Homo sapiens: one gene and its partners. The protein of the gene in region 1 interacts with the protein of each later gene in a pairwise test. Each region holds a gene or a part of one and is shown in the gene's direction. Other genes may lie near its edges.

Evidence for each region. The genes of interacting proteins can lie anywhere in the genome.
Region 2: the proteins of CUL3 (region 1) and KLHL13 interact in binary tests that used the Homo sapiens proteins (3 or more experiments, as listed by UniProt).
Region 3: the proteins of CUL3 (region 1) and RHOBTB2 interact in a two-hybrid assay, tested with the Homo sapiens proteins (2 studies listed by BioGRID).
Region 4: the proteins of CUL3 (region 1) and BTBD10 interact in binary tests that used the Homo sapiens proteins (3 or more experiments, as listed by UniProt).

What each region holds. Positions count from the first base shown.
Region 1 is NC_000002.12:224,501,864-224,505,363, reverse strand, and holds part of CUL3 (cullin-3), read left to right. Parts: intron 1-1,541; coding exon 1,542-1,712; intron 1,713-2,291; coding exon 2,292-2,399; intron 2,400-3,500. UniProt on the Homo sapiens protein: Core component of multiple cullin-RING-based BCR (BTB-CUL3-RBX1) E3 ubiquitin-protein ligase complexes which mediate the ubiquitination and subsequent proteasomal degradation of target proteins.
Region 2 is NC_000023.11:117,917,811-117,921,310, reverse strand, and holds part of KLHL13 (kelch-like protein 13), read left to right. Parts: intron 1-940; coding exon 941-1,073; intron 1,074-1,593; coding exon 1,594-1,790; intron 1,791-3,500. UniProt on the Homo sapiens protein: Substrate-specific adapter of a BCR (BTB-CUL3-RBX1) E3 ubiquitin-protein ligase complex required for mitotic progression and cytokinesis.
Region 3 is NC_000008.11:23,009,548-23,013,047, forward strand, and holds part of RHOBTB2 (rho-related BTB domain-containing protein 2), read left to right. Parts: intron 1-990; coding exon 991-1,141; intron 1,142-3,500. UniProt on the Homo sapiens protein: Regulator of cell proliferation and apoptosis. It likely functions as a substrate-adapter that recruits key substrates, e.g. MSI2, to CUL3-based ubiquitin ligase complexes for degradation. Required for MSI2 ubiquitination and degradation.
Region 4 is NC_000011.10:13,411,223-13,414,722, reverse strand, and holds part of BTBD10 (BTB/POZ domain-containing protein 10), read left to right. Parts: intron 1-1,072; coding exon 1,073-1,193; intron 1,194-3,500. UniProt on the Homo sapiens protein: Plays a major role as an activator of AKT family members by inhibiting PPP2CA-mediated dephosphorylation, thereby keeping AKTs activated. Plays a role in preventing motor neuronal death and accelerating the growth of pancreatic beta cells.

The sequences.
Region 1 (3,500 bases):
GGAGTTTGAGACCAGCCTGACCAACTTGGTGAAACCCCATCTCTACTAAAAATACAAAATTAGCTGGGCATGGTGGTGGATGCCTGTAATCCCAGCTACTCAGGAGGCTGAGGCAGGAGAATCACTTGAACCCAGGAGGCGGAGGTTGCAGTGAGCCAAGATGACGCCACTGCACTCCAGCTGGGGCAACAATAGCGAAACTCCGTCTCAAAAAAAAAAAAAAAACTGAACAACTACACAGCTGTAGTTGGTAAACAGTCATTTTTATGACTGAGAGTTAGGCATGCTGAAGATAAAGAACTAGAAAACTTTCTAGTAGAGAGTGTTGTTTGCTCTCATCTGGTTCTGAAGGTTATATGTCAAACAATAATTGGATGCCAAGAATATTAAGGCATAGATAGAGTAGATCTCATCTCAGAAAATGGTTGGTGTAGCTCAATTTCAAGCCTTTGTGATATATGATATCTCTGGAACCTGAGGAGCTCACGACAGCATAGAAAATCAACTGAAGCATAAAACATGCTCACATCTGAATTGGTCTCTTTTGACTTCATTTTGGAATTTGTGACACCAAAGGGAAAAGCAACATGTCGTCACAGGTTTTACAGGCAGTAGCTGCAATAAGGGAACAAAATCACTAAGGTTGCACAGAATAGAAAAGTCTATTAATTTATGCATTCATTTGGTCTTCCGTTTTTCAAATATATTAATACAACCTGCCACAGAATCCTTTTGCCCTTATTTAAAAGTAAGGGCAGCCAGGCACAGTGGCTCACGCTTGTAATCCCAGCACTTTGGGAGGCAAAGGCGGCGGATCACCTGAGGTTGGGAGTTCAAGACCAGCCTGACCAATATGGAGGAAACCCATCTCTACTAAAAATACAAAATTAGCCGGGTGTGGTGGTGCATGTCTAATCCCAGCTACTCGGGAGGCTGAGGCAGGAGAATTGCTTGAACCCGGGAAGCAGAGGTTGCGGTGAGCCGAGATGGCGCCATTGCGCTCCAGCCTGGGCAACGAGTGAAACTCCGTCTCAAAAGAAAAAAAAAATAGAAATAAAAAAATAAAGTAAGGGCAATGGCCTTTTTACTGTTTGGATTATAACAAATTATTGCCTTTTGTTTGCACAGTTGAGGCTTTCAGTGAGCTTAAATGAAAAATTCCGTCTTTTGGCTGTGTAAGTTTTTGCCTGCATATGCAAAGGCTTCATAAAATAATCTCTGTGACTAAAATTTCATTTCATCTGTTCTCAATCATCCCTTAACCCAGCGCTATATTACCTTATGCCTCCAATTCAGTGGTAGCCCTCTACGGAATAGAATTCCACTCCAACCCCTCATTCATGATGCACTAAATGAGAATGTAAGAATGATGCTACTGTGTGAAGTAGGAGACACTTTCTCAAACCGTATCCCTTTTTTTGATGTATGTCAACCAGATATCTATGTTTTCAAACAATAGTGTTTTTAAGCTGTAAATGAACCGTAGTACTGCTTTTGTAGAACTAAAATTGTATAATTGTTACATCATCTTAATTTTGCAGCTAACAGAACAAGAAGTAGAAACAATATTGGATAAAGCAATGGTCCTTTTTAGGTTTATGCAAGAAAAAGATGTATTTGAACGTTATTATAAACAACACTTGGCAAGGAGACTTCTCACAAATAAAAGTGTTTCTGATGACTCTGAAAAAAACATGATATCTAAGTTAAAGGTAAGGTGTGTTTTAGATGAAATAGAGTGCACCTAACTGAGGTTTATTATGATTGTGTACTGACAACGTGATTGGAAATTAATTTGGTAGATTATTAAGTGTTTATTTCTAGAAATAAAGGTAGATTGTTTTGGAGAAGAACACAGACTACACTAACATTTGTTCAAGTTCAGGGACATTCAGAGTTTGCTGGAATTTCTGTTGGTGTGTCAGGATACATTCATGGAGGCCTGGAAGGGAGGATTAGTAAAAGGGAAACAATAAAGAGGCTATGCTGTGTAGTTCTTTTTCACAAAGTGTGGTCCATAGAATACTTGCACGTGAATCACCTGAGATGCTAGTTAAAAACAGTTCTGGGCCCTGCCTTTCATGGGGGTATATTGGAATCTCTGAAAGAATCTGGGAATTTGCATTTTAAAATCCTAAAGTTTGATAACCACAGGCACAGAGCAACTGTTGGAAAAATTTACAGGAAGATTATCAGGGATAGCAATAACATGAAATAATTTATTTCTTTCTGTACTTTCTCATAGAAACATCTACCATTTATTTGTGTATATTTGTGTTTTTCCTCCACAGACTGAATGTGGATGTCAGTTCACGTCAAAACTGGAAGGAATGTTTAGGGATATGAGCATCTCAAACACAACGATGGATGAATTCAGGCAACATCTACAGGCAACTGGTGTAAGATTCTGCGTTAATTTCTACTTAGATATTCATGTAAAGTCTTTTGTAATGGGTATATTTTCATCCACTTAGCAGATGACAGTTGTTTCTTTAAATGTCATTAGTGACAACATGTGTTTTATCTGTGAGTACTTAATTTTCCTTCACATTGCCTCTTATTCTGTGTTTATGTTAAAACTTTTTATTCTTTTAAAATTTAGTTGTTTCTTCCCACTTGAAGGAATACACTGACAATTTAATAAAGAGAATTATTCTGTTGTTAATAAAGATAATACAAATCTATTATAAATTGTGGAAAGAGTACTGGGCTTAACACAAGTTTACTGAGTTTCAGTACTCTTCTTTTCACTTTACCCCAAGATTGTGTCATCTTGGGATAGTCACCTGACCTTCCTATACCTCACTACTATTATTCTCCTCTGTAAGTTTAGCTTAAATGGGACTTACATCCTAAGGGTGCGTAGCAGGTGAAGTGAGACTATAAAAACACAGAAATTAATGTATTATAAATGTGTTTGGTATAACTCCCCAAAGGTGGTGAGCTGGAACTTCTTTAGCTTTGGAGTCTGATGGGAGTTTTATGAGCATTTAATGAAATTCAGAATTTAGTTTCATTTTTTACTCTGATTTTCAACTTAACCTTAAGTTTAGAGAATTGTACAGTTTTTAAATTTTTAAAATCACCGTGTACCACTCTATGGTTAAAATGTGTCACAACCATTTAACAGATTTGTGAGTCTTTTCCTTTGGTATCTAAATATGAGATCATCACTTCTACTGGCCTTATAGTCTCGCAAACCAGATACGTGAAAATACGTAATTCTGTAGAATAACCATTCATTTCTATGAAAACATTCTGACTCTAATGTAAATAGTTGTATGATTTGCTTTATAAATATCAGTGTTTACAGTGGAGAAGAGCTGAGAGGAGGAAAGATGCAAGTCCATGACAGAAATTTCGGGTGGACAGGAAATAGTGGTGTAATTATCCTGGATTTTTATTTTTAGATTGTTTAGGAATTTATAGTTAAATCTAATATATTGATATATTTTCTTGTATTTTTTTGTTTGCTCTAGTAAGTTTTTAAATTTTTTTCT
Region 2 (3,500 bases), on another chromosome or scaffold:
CCCTAAAGCATACATCTCTGTACCCACAAAAATTAAAAATAAAAGATAAAAATTGAAAAACATGATGTTTTGAAATATGTGTATGTTGTAGATTCAACCTGTTATAATCTTAAAAGTGATTGTCATTCTTCCAACTTATATCAATAGAACAACTGTCTATTTGTCGTTAGTTGAGACCATCAGGGTGTAGTGAAAAAGCTAATCAACAAGGATTCTTCTCACCAGAGCTCTGTCACTCCTCTGAATTGTGGCTGCTAGCCTGTTAATTCTCCACTAAACCTTTAGGCATTTGGAGACAATTAAGTCTCATGTTGGGGTTTCCTGGGCTTTTTTTTGTTTTTTTTCAAACAAAGATAATTAAGTCTCAAACTTGAAACTTGAAAGATATTTGGCCAGGCAGCAGCAATGTACTGAGTATAGGCTTCTCAAAGAGATGAAGTAATACAATTAGTAGAAAGAACTATCGTGTACTTAATACAGTTGCTCTCTACTTTTCTTTCTCAACCTCCCCCAAAACAAAACAAAACCAAGATGCTTCAGTCAAGCACTATAAAAGGACTATTAAATTATCGCGAAAAGGAATGTTAAGACAGTCTAATACTCTCATTCTGCAGATGGGAAAGTAGAAGTGCACATTGTAATTATTTTTCAAAATAAGGTAAAAGCTGATAATTGTGTAAATAAGCAAAAGTATATACTTTTTCCTTAATCGTTTTTAACCTAAATTAGTCTTAATTTTGTGTTATTCCTACAGTGAAAGAAAACATGCATTGTCACATATCAGGAAAGTTGTGCAGTTATTTTTTCTTCTCCCGAATATTCTGTTGGCTTTATGTTCCACATATGTTGCACCACATTAATATTCAAACAATTTTAGCACACGAAGATTTGTAACCTCATTTTACCTTGATTAGTGACTCAACTCATGTTCTTGTTGTAGGGCTTTGACCAGCTTCGACTTGAAGGATTGCTTTGTGATGTGACCCTGATGCCAGGTGACACAGATGATGCTTTCCCTGTGCATAGAGTCATGATGGCATCTGCTAGTGATTACTTCAAGGCTATGTTCACAGGTAGTTTGCCTTTTAAAACTCTGAAACCACATTAAAACAATATGAAAAATCCGTGTTTAAATCTTTTTTATTTCTAACATGAAATTTGGTTCTTTTGGAAACAGCTTCAAAAGAAGTACACAACAGTATGTATGGTTTTCGGTGGTGCTGTTTTAACATGGAAAATTGATGCACTTTTTTCATACTGTCCATCTTTATCTCACAGCTTTTCTTTTTCAAGCTTATATCTAGTGGGCCATCAGAGACTCTGTGTCCTCCTAGTACAATCTCTACTCTATGTCAAAAAATAGGAAGTGAGAACATTTTGGAAGCACTTGCATCATATATGACCTCCATTAGTATAGAGATTATCTTTTTTAAGTACTTTCTTTTAACAGTAAAATGTGCAGCAGACTGACTCTAATATGACTGCTTATATAAGATAAGACTTTCCTTTGATTTTATTGCATCTAATTAGCAGCAGAAGTGAGTTTGACCATAATTATCCACCTTCATTTAATTGAATGTCTTTTTATTTAAGGTGGAATGAAAGAACAAGATTTAATGTGCATTAAACTTCATGGTGTGAGCAAAGTCGGTCTAAGGAAAATTATTGATTTCATTTATACTGCAAAGCTTTCTCTTAATATGGACAACCTTCAAGACACGCTGGAAGCTGCCAGTTTCCTACAGATTCTGCCAGTTTTGGACTTCTGTAAAGTGTTTCTCATATCTGGGGTAAGATATTTTGAAATCTGATTTTTCCTGTGGTAGACTCTGATGTAGCCTGTTTAGGACTCATGAAATCTGCTGTGCAGGAATGTGAAACTTGCCATTAGACAGATGTGTCTTGTTGTATGTGGTCTGTAAGCAAGGTGAGATTGAAACAGGTGCATTTTTATGAAATAGAATCATTTAATAAAAGCCTCTGTGTTGGCCGGGCATCGTGGCTCACGCCTGTAATCCCAGCACTTTGGGAGGCCGAGGCGGGCAGATCGTCTAAGGTTGGGAGTTCAAGACCAGCCTGACCAACATGGAGAAAGCCCGTCTCTACTAAAAATACAAAAATTAGCTGTGCATGGTGGTGCATGCCTGTAATTCCAGCTACTTGGGAGGCTGAGGCAGGAGAATCGCTTGAACCTGGGAGGTGGAGGTTGTGGCGAACTGAGATCACGCCATTGCACTCCAGCCTGGGCAACAAGAGTGAGACTCCATCTCAGGAAGAAAAAAAAAGCCTCTGTGTAATCAAATGACATGAGATACTAATAATGTTTGATGAAGATATATACTTTAACTGTTTGATAATGGTATGTACCATAATCTGGTTTTATTCACCTTAATGACTATACAAGCAGGCTTCTTAAATGTAATTGAATGGAAAAGTAATCTGAGCTTCTAGAACTCTTTAAAATTTCTTCTTTTAATAAGGGAGCTAGATCTTAAGAAGAACTAATACCTATGGGCAAACCTGTAAGAATGTAAGTCTTGATTCCATAGAAACATATCACCTACTGAATAGTGTTTAGCCATTTTTTAATAGATAAGATAGGACACATACAACTACCAATCGATGGAGTACTTAATGATAGTCACCCAGTTCCTGAAGAGAGTGTTTTATTTTAGTTGAGACCTTTAAATTTTACTTCTGGGGAGATAAATGGCTACATTGGACAGAAATATTGCCAAGACTTCCAGAGGTCTTGGAGCTTGTTTTTCTGATTAAGAATTCTGGCAATATTAATTTTTGGTATATTTTCTAACTCATTATGTTGATGGATATGTTTTCTATAATTTTTTAACTCATATGAATCTTAATATAGGTAAATAATTGCTGTTAGATCTTTACAACTTACATTTTTTGAACATGGAACCTTCTTTAAAACACTAAGTTTCAAGAGAGCCATGTCCTTAATTATTTTATTATTAAGGTACTTAACTATCTTAAAAGTCAGCCAATAACTAATTTAACTGGCCTATTGAAAGTGTGTTTTTTGTATGTTTGATTTTAGAAAACTCAGACTGCTGTCTCACAATTACTTATAAAATTTGAACTAATTGCTACTTTTAAGGGTTTTTATGGCAGCATGGTGCTATATTGTTGACTTGTATTGTCTTCTTTATTGCGAAAGTAGCCCAAGTGAAGTTGGTTAATTCCCATGCTATTGCTTGCCTCCATTACTGAATTTAGGTGCTAAATTTTATTTAAATTTGATCATGCAAGGCCCATTCCCTCAAGAGCTATTAGGATCTCACCTCTGGTTGTGTCACTGGCATGATATAACAACTTCATTTCAAGGAAAAATGAATCATATTGAATGTGATTTTCAAAATGCCTCAAGTCCAGAATTTAATTTAGTAGTAACACTTAAAGCTTGTACTTATAGACTCTTAACATTGCTTTACACTGATCTTAGCAACACATGGTCATCCTGAGCCAAATTAAGGAAA
Region 3 (3,500 bases), on another chromosome or scaffold:
GCTTCTGAGCGCAGGGACTGGGTCTTTTTCCTTCTGCCAAAAACCCTCTCAGCGCCAGTCTCTTGGGAAATGCTCACCAAATGCTTGAATGAAAAACAGAACCAAGCACGAGGCTGGGCTGCATCGCATCCCGTGATGTGGAATGTGCATTTTCTAAGATTTCTGGGAAGGAAGTACTTAAGGAAGGCTAAGTGGAAGCGTTGGGAGTTGGTCTCTGAAGTGGGAGTAGGATTTGGATATACAAAATGTGAGACTAGGAGCTCTCACAAGCCCCAGGGGCCTGCCAGCCCCGGGCACTTCTCGGTACTGTAGACGCCAGCTTTAAACTTCTAGCCAGTTCCCAGCACAGCCTGGAGAGCCTGATGAGAAGGCAGTTTGTGTTGCAGCGCTGCTCTCAAGAGATCCTGGAGGCCCAAAGCAGCAGCTCTGAGCAGACAGAAAGAAATCAGCTGCTGTGGGCCTTACTTATTCTGTATCCCACTTCTGTTCTGTGCAGGGATGGGAGGGACTGAGGTGTAGATTGAGGTGACCAGAAGGCCTCCTTCAAGCATCCCGCGAGCAAGAGCGGCTTCCAAAGGGTGCCAGTGAGTAGTATCTGGGTCCCTTTGGAAGAGTTTAGAAGCTGGACGCCATGGCTTGTGCCTATAGTCCCAGCTACTGAGGAGGCTGAGGCAGGAGGAATGCTTAAGACCAGGAGTTCAAGACCATCCTGGATGGCATAACAAGACGCTGTTTCTAAAAATAAACACATAAATGATAGTAGAGGCCTGTACTCTGGTGCTGTCAGCAAACTGGGGCTCAGCACAGGTTGTCGCTCTAGGGGTCAGGTGTTCTCAGGGTCTTCTCAGCAGATACACATGCAGCACAGGGAAGGCTGCCCGTCTGGGGGAGCCTGGGTGTGAGGGCCAGAGCTCTTCAATTTCTCAGGGTTCAGTTCATCTTCTCCTAAGCAGGATCTCATTGCTGTCCGCTCACTCCTTCCCTCCCCAGGTGGTGTTTCCCTACACAAGCAAGAGCTGCATGCGGGCCGTGCTGGAATACCTCTACACCGGCATGTTCACCTCCAGCCCCGACCTGGATGACATGAAGCTCATCATTCTAGCCAACCGCCTCTGCCTGCCACACCTGGTTGCCCTCACAGGTAACTAAGCAGTGCACTCGGGGACCTCCCCGCGGCAGAGGCCAGGGAAACCCCAAGGTGCAATGTTCTCCTCTCACGTCTCTCCTGGGGGACAAGCTGATGTCCAAGGGACTAAGCGTACATGAAATGGAATCTGTTGACGGGCACAGAGTTCTGGATGAGGACACAGAGTGAAGAAGGGTGGTGCGGGGCATGTTTGATGGGGTCACCTGAGAGGCTCTCTCCAAAGGCGATTTAAACCCAACAAAATGGAACATGAGGCTGGGCACAGAGGCTCACACCTATAATCCCAGCACTTTGGGAGGCCAAGGCGGGAGGATCACTTGAGGCCAGGAGTTTAAGACCAGCCTAGCCAACATGGTCTTACCCGTCATGGCAAACTGCCATGAAACCCGTCTCTACTAAAAATATAAAAATTAGCTGTGTTTGGTGGCAGGCGCCTGTAATCCCAGCTACTCGGGAGGCTGAGGCAAGAGAATTGCTTGAACCCGGGAGGTGGAGTTTGCAGTGAGCTGAGTTTGCACCACTGCACTCCAGCCTGGGTGACAGAGTGAAACTGTGTCTCAAAAACAAACAAACAAAAAATGGAACATGACAGTGCTTTATGTTCTTTGCTTGGCTTCACTTGGACAAGCTTAAGAAGTCAAAAAATAATAGAACACAATTCCCACATTTCTACCCTGTGGTTCTCCTCCTTCTTCCTTTCCTTTTATTTTTCTTCTTTTGCCTTTTTTCTTCTTCCCCTACCTTTGACATCACCTTCTCATCCTCTTTCCAGAAACAGCACACAAACATCCCTGCCACTCCTTAGTCCCTGCACGGATTGTACGAGCCGGAGCTCAGCTTTTAGTGTGGACAAATCCCAGGGGCTCTCTGAGTTGGAACAAGAACTGAGTCATGGGGGAGAGCCAGCGGCAGGCAGTCTGGGTCCAAGGGGCCAGGGAAGAGAAGTGGTGCTCGTGGGGTGAAGGGAGCCTGGGGCCAGAGACCCAGGCAGGCAGACGGCTCTCGTTCATGTTGGAGTTGGCACTTGAGTTGCTAGTGGTGGCGGCAGGGGTACCAGCGCTGGTGTTGATGCCGAGGTTAATATTCTTGCATAGGTCGGGGACAGAGAGCACATCCTCACATACTGAGTTGAGATTCAGGGAAGAACCCAGTGTCAGAGCTGCTGGGGTCCAGGCAGATGATCAAGATCGGGGCTCAGATATGAGGGAAAACAGCAATCCGTGAGGAAAAATGAATGATAAGGTGGGGCTGGGTTACAGAAAGAAGGCAGAAATCATTGATCAGAACCAGAATATTAAGAGCGGAGGCTGCAGTGGGAGTCCAGGGTCCCCAGAAGGGGATAAAGGGAACTTTGGGGCAGGTAGCAAGAGAGGCATCTAAAGATCCCAGCTACAACAGTATATCTTGTTTTGCTGTCCATAAAAAAATGGTGTGATCTTCCCAGAGCACATAAAACTTCAAATTCCTAGATGGAATAATTCCACTTTTAAAAGACTATCTCCAGAGAAATGACCCAAAGGGGAAAAATGCATAAAGGTATTTCTAGAAGTTCATTTCGTCATGGCAGGCAATTGAAAGCAAGTCACAGAAAAACCGTTGGTGAAGCACACACAGGCAGTTTTCACATGGTAGTCATTAAAAATGTTAAACTAGACTGCTGCATGGAAAGGCTTATTGAAAATAATGTTAAGTAACTTTTCATGAAATTATCGATACACACTAGGGAACATCCACAAAAATGTTTATATCTGCCTTGTTAAGGATCAGGGGAAGATGCCAAGTTTTATATAATTGGCGATGGTTTAAGTTTTGTGACATATGCTTCCTATGAGGCCATTAATTCAAGTTGAAAACTTTTATTGCTCAGTAGAACACAAATACATAAAAGCATATTAAACATATGTTCAGGTTACTGAATTACTATTGTTATTATGTTTTTTTAGAGACAGGATCTTGCTCTGTCACGCAGACTGGAGTGCAATGGCCTGATCATAGTTCACTGCAGCCTCAAATTCCTGGGCTCAAGCGATCCTCCCAACTCAGCTTCCCAAGTACCTTGGACTATGGGCCTGCCTCATCACACCCAGCTAATTTTTAAATTTATTTTTATTTATTTATTTATTTATTGACATAGAGTCTCACTTGGTCTCTCAGGCTGGAGTGCAGTGGTGCAATCCTGGCTCACTGCACCCTCTGCCTCCTGGGTTCAAGCGATTCTCCTGCCTGAGCCTCCTGAGTAGCTGGGACTACAGGCATACACCACCACACCCAGCTAATTTTTGTAATTTGAGATGGGGTTTTGCCATGTTGGCCAGGCTGGTCTTGAACTCCTGACCTCAAGTGATCCACCCAC
Region 4 (3,500 bases), on another chromosome or scaffold:
GATTACAGGTGTGCACCACCACGCCTGGCTAATTTTTGTATTCTTTTTTTTTTTTATTATTTTTATTTTGAGATGGAGTCTTGCTCTGTCGCCCAGGCTGGAGTGCAGTGGCGCGATCTCGGCTCACTGCAAGCTCCGCCTCCCAGGTTCATGCCATTCTCCTGCCTCAGCCTCCCGAGTAGCTGGGACTACAGGTGCCTGCCACCACACCCGGCTAATTTTTTTGTATTCTTAGTAGAGAAGGTTTCACCGTGTTAGCCAGGCTGGTCTTGAACTTCTGACCTCAGGTGATCTGTCTACCTCGGCCTCCCAAAGTTCTGAGATTATAGGCGTGAGTCATGGTACCTGGCTGAGCCAGGTCTTAATTTTGGGGAAAAAGTGTTTTTTTAGCTGTCCATATTTCCCCTTGTGGAATTGAAAAGAATTTTTATCACTCATCTCTGAAGTAACTTATCTGTGATTCTGGGGTTGTCCTTTAACAACTTACTAAGTGGATTTTGGAAATAATTAATATTGCTTGTCATAATATGGAATCACCAAAGGGTAGTATTAAAAGAAGAATATCTAATGGTATGTCTTATTTTACATATTTTAATACTTGAATATGACTATAATTCTGTACTAAAAACCTCACATTTTGTTAAATTATCTAGGTAGTATTTAAGATAACATATCATTCAATTTCCTTACTTTTTAAAAAAATGTTTAAAACTTTATGATGGTTTCGTAGAAATATAACTTGTAGAAGGAAAATACATATGCATTGGTGTGATGTCATAAAGAAGACATGAATTAGGTAACAGGGAGCCCTATATTCAAATCTTACCTTTGCTTTTAAATAATTTTATGACAGGCTAAGTCGGTGAATTCATTTGGACCTGAATTTTCCTTATAGGTAAAATGAAAAAGTAGTTAGGTGAACGGAGGTCTCATCTAAGTTTAAACTTCCACATTTCAGAGATGTCAGAGTTCTCTACTGTTTCTGAAAATGTTACCAGCCCTTCCTTAATAATAAGTTTTGGCTACCTTATGCTCCAGATATTTTATGCTTTCTTTACTTTTCTTTTTCCAGGATTACTATAAAACAGGAATAATCCGTTGTCCTGATGGCATATCTATTCCTGAACTGAGAGAAGCATGTGACTATCTTTGTATCTCTTTTGAATATAGCACTATTAAATGTAGAGATCTCAGTAAGTATGATGTTTTGTGTGTAAGTGGTTTGTAGAATTAGAATATATTGGAACAAAAAGCCTGAAATTAGTGCTATTTACCTAGTTAGACTTAAAGTATTTAATTCAATTATAAAGCATTCTAGTACCACAAAGATTATTAATGAAAGCTTGCAAAGACCTTGATGATCTCCTTGTGCAATTTTCCAAATATTTTTTCAATTTTAATAATTTTCTTTTTTGACAAACCCAGATTTCCTCCTAGACAGTTTTCTATATTATTTATTTGTTACCAGTTTTATCTCCTAGATTTGGATCCTTGGCTTTGGTCAAGTGTGGTCATTTGGCTGCATTTCTTTGATTACATCATCCAAAAATTTATAATTTTTTGTATTACCACGTGTGATAATATGAGCACTATGGAAAACACAAATAATTCTCAAAAACAATACCTATCATTAAAGATCCTAGATTGAATGTCTAGCCCTCATGTATACATAGGATTAAATGACTTCATCCAAGAACTTCAAATATTGTCTCAAAGCAGTGTGTAGAAGGTTTTAATCCCAACTCTTTGATTGGTATTCTTCTCTCACTACTTCTTCAGCACCCCTACTCCCATTGTTACTTCTTCAGCACCCCTACTCCCATTGTTTCTCCCAACCCTGAGAAAAGATGTGATTATGCACAAAAAAGTCAAAATAGTGTATGAGAAGTATCAAATGTTGACTTAGGTACTTAAGCCAACACTTAAGTGGTTGGAGAAGTTCAGAGGAAGGGGAAGTCATTGTGGGCTAAGGATCGTGGAAGAGTTCAGTGGAAATACGTAGTAAAGAATGAACTAAATGATTTACAAAGAGTAGATAGTATTGTTTTGGGGAATTATTTATATCTTCCATAGTGCCCAGGATATCATCCTACATGGTAATACAAAAAATTCTCAGAGCTGAGGTTTCTGGAGTAAAGATGTAGTAGGTATACTTTGGAAATACAGTAGATCCAATAGATTGTCCAATAGATTGTTAGACAGCCAGAACATACAACTGTACATTTGAACAACGTTGCTGGGTTTTTGTTGTTGTTGTTGTTGTTGTTTTTGAGATGGAGTCTCGCTGTGTCACCCAGGCTGGAGTGCAGTGGTGCAATCTCAGCTCACTGCAACCTCTGCTTCCTGAGTTCAAGGGATTCTCCTGCCTTAGCCTCCCCAGTAGCTGGGGTTACAGGCACCCATCACCACACCTGGCTAATTTTTTTGTTTTAATAGAGACAGGGTTTCACTATGTTGGCCAGGTTGGTCTTGAACTCCTGAGCTCAGATGATGCACCTGCGTCGGTCTCCCAAAGTGCTGGGATTACAGGTGTGAGCCACTGTGCCTGGCCAGAGTTGCTGTTTTTTCACATCTTAAAAAAATGATTTTAGGGGCTGGGTGCAGTGGCTCACACCTGTAATCTCAGCACTTTGGGAGGCAGAGGCGGTCGGATCACCTGAGGTCGGGAGTTCGAGACCAGCCTGACCAACATGGAGAAACCTCTTCTCTACTAAAAATACAAAATTAGCCAGGCGTGGTGGTGCATGCCTGTAATTCCAGCTACTCGGGAGGCTGAGGCAGGAGAATTGCTTGAACACGGGAGGTGGAGGTTGTGGTGAGCCGAGATTGCGCCATCGCACTCCAGCATGGGCAACAAGAGTGAAACTCCATCTCAAAAAAAAAAAAAAAGTTTTAGTTGAAACCATGAGCATTATAGATCCCTGATTTCAAGTTTTGTGTCTATTCATACGACCATTTAAATTAATCTTTATATAATTAATGTTGAATTTTGGTGACTGGCAGAGATAGAAAAAAACTAGAATTTTTTACAGATGATGTGAATCTCTTAGTTCTGCAATCTTTTGTTGTGCGTAGTTTACCTTGTCATTACTACTAAGTATCTTTTATTTGTTACAGATTAAAAGTAAGGGTTTTATGTAAAATATGTGTAACATGATTATCCTAGACTTTTAGCTTTTCAGTAATATTTGTAGTTGTTTCTAGATTACTTGTAATATATGTTACTAAAAATTTAGAGATTCTCAAAGACGTTTTAAAAAAAAACTATATAGAATTTGAAGAGATGGAAGTGGTCTTGTAAAAATGTAGGTAGACTTTAATCCAAAAGTAAATTTTTTTTCTTGCAAATATATGCCTTTGCTGAATATTTGGAATGGCACTTTGCACTAAAATATCTGGGCTTATATCTTAATTTAAGAAGAAATTATACAATTTGCTTGCATGTTCTCTCTCTCTGGTTGAGGCACTCTTTTTCAGTTTGTGGCATTAAACTAGTTTGG